Linked DNA regions of Homo sapiens: region 1 is linked to region 2. Evidence: fine-mapped expression QTL. A gene starts in region 2. The other region holds a variant in brackets. All regions are shown on one strand. Distances are from middle to middle.

Evidence for each region. PIP is the estimated chance that this variant, and not a neighbour inherited with it, causes the effect.
Region 1: its variant is fine-mapped to the expression of LRATD1 in left ventricle (GTEx, PIP above 0.99).

The regions. Positions count from the first base shown.
Region 1 is chr2:14,531,068-14,535,457 of GRCh38, forward strand. No RefSeq gene overlaps it. Among named protein-coding and RNA genes, the nearest start is that of LRATD1, 99 kb to the right of the region's middle. The variant G/A (reference allele first, on the strand shown) is at 2,392.
Region 2 is chr2:14,630,954-14,635,343 of GRCh38, forward strand. LRATD1 (LRAT domain containing 1) reads left to right here and starts at 1,764. Exons shown (of 2, transcript NM_145175.4): 1 at 1,764-1,984; 2 at 2,991-4,390. The coding sequence starts at 3,027. The coding sequence ends at 3,905.

The DNA of each region.
Region 1 (4,390 bases), 100 kb before region 2:
AAAAATTAGCTGGGCATGGTGGTGGGCACCTCTAATCCCAGCTAATCAGGAGGCTGAGGCAGGAGACTAGCTTGAGCCCCTGAGGTGGAGGTTGCAGTGAGCCGAGATCATGCTTGCTGCACTCCAGCCTGGGCTACAGAGTGAGAGTCTGTCTCAAAATAAAAGTAAAAAATAAAAGCACAAAGAGTTTATATCCAATTTTATATTTATGCATATTTAAGTAATATGAGGATAAAGATACTCTAATTCCATATTGGAGGGTCCATGAAAACATTTATTTTTGAAAAATGTACACACAATGGAGTTTGTTCCCGATCAGCATGGGAGCTTGATTCCTATGGTTCTGGGTTAGGTCTCCAGTGGTACTGCGGACTGCCAGAATCAGCTCCCCATGGACCAAAGATGGCAAATACATGACATGCAGGATGATACCAACACATTGCACTTAATATTTTTTTTGAGTTTTTAATTTTTTTCTATTCTCAACTCAAGTTAATGTTTCAATTACATTGAAAATGAGGAAATGAAAAAAAGGATGGGTTTTTAATCAATTGAATTTCCATTTGGGTTTCATTAAAATTGCAATGGATGTTATTATGGAAAAGTGTGTCTCAAAAAATAATGATAATATCAGTTGTTTCTATTCTTGTGATAGTGATAAGGCAACATTAGGTGAGATGCTGGGAAGCACAGTGTTCCCCAATGTTAGGCAACTTAAAACTGTTCAAGTTAAGCGTGGTGGCAAGAAGTATATTAAGATATTCCTTTGCTGAAAAGGCCGGTGTGAGCAGTGCTGTCATCTTTAAAAGTTCTATCGTATTAACTTGTTACAAATACCACTTATAAACTAACCCAAGTAATCTCATCAAGTTTGGATATTATTGGCCAGGCATGGTGACTCACACCTGTAATCTCCGCATTTTGGAAGGCCAAGGCAGGCAGATCACCTGAGGTTAGGAGTTCGAGACCAGCCTGGCCAACATGGTGAGGCCCTATGTCTACTAAAAGTACAAAAATTTGCCAGGTGTGGTGGCACACACGTGTAGTCCCAGCTACTCAGGAGGGTGAGGCAGGAGAATGGCCTGAGATTGCAGTGAGCCGAGATGGTGCCACTGCACTACAGCATGGACGACAGAGAGAGACTCCATCTCAAGAAAAAAAAAAAAAAAGAAAAAGGTTGGATATTATAACTGAATTTTGTATTTAGCATGTCAATGGTTTTTAAATCTTGACTTTTCTGGTGACTTTACCATGAATTCAAATGTCTATTAAATAAGCCTCAATTCAACTTAGTTTGATCTTAAAATAAGACTTAATTATATTAAACTTCAAAACATAATCCAGCTAAATTAAAAAAAAAAAACAAAATTGCACCATCATGGATTACAAGTGAGTTTTATCTAAAAGTTGTATTTTTATAACTGCAGAGAATTATTTGTAAAATGTTTGTAAATGGTATTTTAAATAATCCCAAATCAATAGCTTTAAATAACGCTCACAAGGAGGAACTAGTTTTCAGTATTTGACCATTCTTTTTCTTACTAAAATGTGTTACAATATATTCATTTTGTAATTTTCTCATTCAGATAAACAACACAATTACATTTAACAAGTCATGTTGGAAGTTGTTTTTATGTAAAGATTTTGAAAACAAACAACATATTTTCTTAGATACACTGATTGCTTCCGAATAGAAATATGAGTAAATACTCTTTTACATCATTGAATCATCTTCAAAATTAGTAATTATATGCCGCTGTGGAAATAAATAGTGAACAAGGCACTTTTTAAATATTCATATGCCAGGAAAACTATTTGGTAGTTAGTTGTTAATAAATTAATGCAGAATTTTGAAATATATTCTTTCCATAAAAAATTGTTTATGAAGATTATATAATTAGGTATTTAAGCTAAAACCTGACTGTTGTCCTTGCATCTGATTGTGAGCTTCCTGAGGACAGGACAGGAACAATCTAATTAATCTCCATGTTCCTAGAGGCTAAACTAAAGCCTCCTACAGGGAAGCCTTGTTAACTGAACTGAACTGAATTGAATGAAAGTGAATTTAATGAAATTGAAATGGATTAAATTACAATAAAATGTATGCCTTTAAATTATTGGTGCAAGATTGTGAATCAGCCTTATATAATCACATCACAGGGACACTGTCAAATTTGCCTTCCCTCTGCTAGTAGGCCTACTTCCTTTACTCCTCCTATCAAACATCCTGGTTACCCAGAGACAACTGATACAACAATGAGAAGAGGCTTTGGCTGGATTTAAAAATAAAAACAGAAACAGTGCAGTCAGATGTGCCAAAGTTTCCACTGTGGCTTAGGGATAAGAGCAGAGAACAAAAATCACAAAGACTTGGATTCCAATCCAAGGTCT[G/A]TATTTAGGAGTTTTGCAACTTGGGCAAGGCATTGAATCTCCTTAGCTCCAGGTTCTTCTTTCATAAGATGAGGATAACTTACCCTCTGGGTGCTGGCATGGTTAAATTTGGCCATGCATGCAAAGTTGTAAGCCCATAATAGGTTCTCTCTAAAGGTTGGTTCCTGTCTCCCTCCCTGTATCATTCACCAGCCCAAAAGTAAGTCATGCAGATGTGTCGGGCTACCTGGAACTCCAAGGAGGCCAGGACTGTGGCAAGCACTCTGTGGCCCTCAACTCTCTAGACTTTGTTGCCACTGCTGTGATAATCCCTTCTGTGACTTGATATTTGTTCCTTAACTGGAACAACAAAAAAAGAAAGTTCGCTTTCTTCTTGAGGAGTCTTTTGCTAAAGCCATCAACTCAGAAATACAAGTGAAAATGTGAGATGTTTTACGAAGCATACATGTATAACCTGCCTGTTTGGACTCTCATGATTTGCTTTACACGCTACAGCTCAGTGATATTAAAAACAAACAAACAATTATACACTTTGAATTTACCATAGTAAATTTACTGTAGCTTATCTGAACTTCTCACTTTTCAAGGTGGCATAAGATGATAGGAAATAATATTTGTTAATTAAAGCTGTCTTCAACTTTCACATTTAAGAAAGGATCTTTAGGACAGTCAATCAATTCAAAGTTAATTCTCTCCCCTGAATTCCAAGGTGTTCGGTTCAAGAGGGACACAAAGCGGTTGAGTGTCTGACCCTCATGTGGTCTTGGGCTGTTCAAGTCCTGATGGCTCCCATAGCCCATGGCGCCGTCCTAACTCCTCCTGGCCCCTGAATGGTCTACTGGCTTCTACTGCTTGTTCTATGGCTGGACAGCCTCACCACCTGACTCCCCAATATTATTAAACCGCTGACCAGCTCTTCCCTGCTTTCACTGGTGCTATGGACCCACTGAGCCCCTGCCACATCCTCATTTAGGTCCCAGCAGAGAAGGTGAACACAGCAGCCTTGCCCCTCTCCACTCAGGCCAGACCTCTGGCTCTCAACTCAGCATCCTCTGCTCCCCAGTGGGATGGAGCAAGAACTCCTGCAGCAGCCTCATGTCACCCCGGAGCAGAGAGGCAGGGGCACTATCACTGTCCTCTCCCTGGCTGACCACTTTTCTAGCATTTGTGTTTTGCTAAGGGACAGCCTGGGAGGGATCCACCACTCAGAGTCCCATATGGTAAAGTGGGGCGAAAGCCCCTTTGTTTTCACCTTTCTCTTGTAGCTGCCTGAGGTTAGTAATTTTTGTATTCATTGCCCCACGAAGGAGACAGGACTCCAGAATTTCACCTTTTGTCTTAATCTTCCTTTCTCTTTTTCCTTAAAATAAAGGGGTTTTTATTTCTGTTTTCTGTCTAGTAGGGACTTCTACTCCACCATATCTTGCTTCTCCTCCAGTGACCTGGGTTCTCAGCTGTCTACCCCTTCCTTCCCTAGGACATTACCCTTCCTGACTCAATAAAAATGGGGGTTAGTGAGTGAGGTCACATCATCAATATCTAGTAAGAGATGTTGCAAAATATATATTTTTAAATTTAAAACCATTATTCTACACATTCAGTCCTATTTTGTCATAAAATATTTGACAGAATCTGTAGTTAGAGCAATGACCTGGTTTCTGTGGGGTTAAAATCAGCGTAGGGTCCTCGTGTAGACAGAATAGGCAGCAGCAGCAGTCCCAGGGAGCAGGAGTCCCTGGGAGCAGTCCCAGGGCAGGAGAATCACTCCTCCATTAATTCTTCACACCCCAAACAGGCCTGGACACGTGAGTGCTCATTAGTGCATTGCCTTGCCTTGCTTGGCAGGCTGCCCCTCCGGTGCTCGCAGAATCCTCCAACAGGCTGGGCCCTGACCCTACATTGAGGATCCTGTGAAGCAACCTTAAGCCAGAAATCCAGGAGCTCAGCCTAGATGCATGCCTAGAGGCACATTCCATTCTCTGCTTCGGTAACCTGTCTC
Region 2 (4,390 bases):
AGCCAAATTTCCAAAAAGATTTAGGTACATCAATTGTATACCGATGGTCATTTAAAACCATTTTTTCCAGCAATATTTTAGCATCTAATTTGATAAATCACTGCATTTGGAGGCTGTGGGGGTGTACAGAGACCTTCAGAAAGCAAACATAAACTGGAGGCTTGGCGGTTTGAAGATATTCAAGCAGAAAAGTCTAGCAAAGAAAAAGGGGGTTGTAATATGGATCAGTCTCCATGTAACCTTGAGCCAATCATCTAACTTCTCTGAAACACCAGTTTTCTCATTTTATGAAACAAGATTTTATTCAATAAACACTATAACTTAGTGAAAGACTGGATCTGGTATCCCGTAGGCTTGGATGGATTGCTGGTACTAGTATTGGAGCTTTTGTTTCCCTGTTTGTTACAATTCGGATATTAGTGAGTACCCTACAGAGGAATAATGATTAAATTGTCTACTTAATTTACTCTTAAGTGTCTGACCACGTATAAGTGGTCAATACAGGCTGTTTTCATTTTTACTATTACTGATGGAACACACTGCATGACTAGCATTGGGAAAGAGGCCCAGAATACAAGGTTGTGCAGAATGCAAAGTCTATTCTCAAGGAATTCGCTTTGTAGGGAAGAGGTGGGGGGTTCAAATAGGAAGTATCAAATTCCTCATTGGGAAAGAAAAGAGGCTTCATAGAAAAGCTGCTGGAGCCCAGGCTTAAAGATGAGTAGCATTGGGGCCAGAACCAGATGTCTAAGAACTCTTTGAGGCTTAATGTTAGGAACTTTTGAAACTATTGGTCTGGAATGTTGTATATATGAAGTTCATTTTTTCAGCATCCAATATTCAGAACACATTCATTCATTAACTTTCCATCCAGAAATGTAATCATTAACTACTGCTGGAGCCTCCTTTCCCACAAAACCAAACAAAACTTGCTTAGCAATCCCAATTCTGAGGCTTGGAAAACACTTTTACATCCTACTCTCTGCTTGCATGTATGAACTCACATACATGAGTTGTGAGGTACTCCTCCTATATTCAGAAAATTGGAGGCCAATATCATAGGCACAGCCAGGGAATGCACCGGCCAAAGCTCAGGCTTTTGGGTGGCATTTGACACCAAGCTCCTTTTAAATCGGGCATCAGCTCTGGGTCAGCAGCCTCACTCCAGTCAAAGAAGAGGAGCCAAACGTCGCAGGAGCAATTTCAAAGACGTCTGGGGAACGAAAAGGGTCTTCGATCCAAGGACCAGCCTAGGGGCCATCGGGAACCAAGGCTCTGGGGGATCCCAGCAGGGCCCAGACGCCCGCCTCGGGCAATGTCGCTGCCTGCCCCGGGCCGCTCGCAGTGCCTGGGCCATACTGGGGTGCCCTGGGGTTTCTTCTCCATACCCAGACTCAGCTTCCCCGCTGGAGTCTGTCTTCCTGGAACACGGAACGCGGGCGGGCTGTGTTCTCAGTCACAATCAGCTCGGATGAGCTGGGGGGCGCGGGCGCAAGCGGGCATCGGCACCTGGCAGAAAGCGCCGCGCCCCCCGCGGGTGCGCACACCTCCGCTCCCCGGGGCGGCGCGCGGTCGGGTGTGCGGGGTACGGGGCGGGGCGGAGCGGAGCAGAGCAAAGCGCACAGGAGGCCCGCCTCTGCTCCCCTCCCCCGCCGGCGAAGATTGACACAGCTCGAGCACCCGCCCCAACCAATGAGCGCGTCCTGGGGCGGGCCCTGGGACCGGCTGCTCCGGCTACTTAGAGTCGTCGGCGCGGCGGTGGGAAAGCAGAGCCGAGCCGGGACTGTCCAGTGGGAGCAGGCGCCCCGGCCAGCGCAGACCTGGAGGCGCACGGGCGCCGCACCGCACGATTCGGCTCGGGGTAGAGCGGAGCCGCAGCCCCACGCGCAGCCCAGGACCCACTCGCCACCGCCGCTTCCTCAGCACCCATGGGGACCAGGAGACTTTAAAGGAGTTTGGGGTTTCGGGAGCAGGGAAATCACGGGTAGGGAGAAGCGGCTTTCTTTGCCTTGGAAACGGTTTTTCTTCATCCGATTGTTTGGATCCTGTGCTGGGTAGGAGGGAGAGGGGTCTTTGGGCTAAAAGTGAACCTCTCTACACACACACGCTCCCACCCACACCCACACACATACACTGCACTGGCTTTCTCCATCCTTCCCCTGCCTCTTTGTTAGGTTATTTTAGACAGAGCAGCCTCGCCCTGGCGCAGTCCCATTGGCCCTGATGGGGACAAGGCAAGAGAAGTAAGGGGCAGAGTGCACCTGCCTGTGAGGGCAGGTGTGCCCGGGTGCTTGGGCGTACGTGCAACGGCGAGCGTGCAAGCGTGGAGCTGAAATTGTGTACGAATGTGTGGGGTCTAAGTGTGCCAGTGTGTCGTCGCGAAGGTTTGTCATTGTGGGTGTATGTGACATACACCAGTATACCAGGCTGCCAGTGTCTGGACTCCCAAGTGTCCAAAATGTTGCTGGTGTCAAGTGAATGCCTGAGAATGTGTCTGATTGTCATTGTGCGAGCCGCTGTAAGGGGAGGAAGGCAACCTAGTGCAAAACTGGGAGGTGGGCTGGAGAGGGTGGGGACAGAAATGGGAGCTTGCTCCCAGCTCACTGGCCTTAGGCTCCCTTCTCCCTTTCAGCCCACCCCTCGGTCCTTCCTGGGTGTCCGTCTCCCACACTGCCACAGCCAGCACTCTCCTCCCCACCGGGACCCCGCAAGCTCTCCAGCCAGCCTGGGTGTTTTCTTCTGGGAGTTGGACCGAGTTCCCGGAAGGGGTCGGAGGCTGTGTGGTGGCGTCTGCTCTCGCCTGACCTGTGGCGGCTTCTCCGCCCCTCGTACCCCTGGGGAGGCACGGAGGACTCGGCTGGAAAGGGTGACTCCGGTGAGGGCACGTAAGCTAGCCGGCAGGTCCCAGGGGCACTGCACGTCTTGGGGAGGGACACCGAAAGGGGCAGCCCGGACTCTGACGGTGTCTCTGCCTCTCTGTGCCTCCGCAGATCCCCGCTCCTGGCCCTCGCCTCGCCACCTCATTGATGGGCAACCAACTGGACCGCATCACCCACCTCAACTACAGCGAGTTGCCCACAGGGGACCCGTCGGGGATTGAAAAGGACGAACTGCGGGTCGGGGTTGCCTACTTCTTCTCGGATGATGAGGAAGACCTGGACGAACGCGGGCAGCCCGACAAGTTTGGCGTGAAGGCCCCCCCGGGTTGCACCCCCTGCCCGGAGAGCCCCAGCCGCCACCACCACCACCTGCTGCACCAGCTGGTCCTCAACGAGACTCAGTTTTCCGCCTTTCGGGGCCAGGAATGCATCTTTTCCAAAGTGAGCGGTGGCCCTCAGGGCGCCGACCTAAGCGTCTACGCGGTCACCGCGCTGCCAGCGCTCTGCGAACCCGGCGACCTGCTGGAGCTGCTGTGGCTGCAGCCCGCGCCGGAGCCGCCCGCGCCCGCCCCGCACTGGGCCGTCTACGTGGGCGGCGGGCAGATCATCCACCTGCACCAAGGCGAGATCCGCCAGGACAGCCTGTATGAGGCGGGCGCGGCCAACGTGGGCCGGGTGGTGAATAGCTGGTACCGCTACCGCCCGCTGGTGGCCGAGCTGGTGGTGCAGAACGCCTGCGGCCACCTGGGCCTCAAGAGCGAGGAGATCTGCTGGACGAACTCGGAGAGCTTCGCCGCCTGGTGCCGCTTTGGCAAGCGGGAGTTCAAGGCGGGAGGGGAGGTGCCGGCAGGCACGCAGCCCCCGCAGCAGCAGTACTATCTCAAGGTGCACCTGGGAGAGAACAAGGTCCACACCGCCAGGTTTCACAGCCTGGAAGACCTCATCCGCGAGAAGCGCCGTATCGACGCCAGCGGCCGCCTGCGAGTGCTCCAGGAGCTCGCCGACCTCGTGGACGACAAGGAGTAGCCGCCTAGGGGCTGCCGGCCCCTCTGCCTCCCCCGCACCTCGCTCCCTTCCCTTCCCCGCACCCGGACTTCGCAGTCAGCGGTTCTCAACCTCTGCCCCGCCCCGCCACGCGCGTCCGCCGCCGGTGGCCCGGGCCCGGGCTGCACCCCCGCATCCCCAAGCCAGCGGCAGGAAGTCTCAGGAACTGCCCCAGGGCCGAAAGGGCGCCGCTGCGAGCGCCTGGCTGACAGCCACAGCGGTGGTGACGGTGCTGGGAGACCCCGCGTGCGCTTTCCCCTTGAGATGTAAACCGGGAACGGGGAAGGGGCTGAGGGGAGAAAGGACATGGCCTTCCCCGCGAGTCCATGGCCAGTGACTGTGGCCCGACTCGAAAACAACCCTCTTCTCAAAAGGGACCATCACCGCCCCGAGCGTGCGCACACAGACCGGTCGGAGGCGAGAACTGGTCTCTACAGGGCACAGTTCAGCTCCTCTGTGGATGCGTC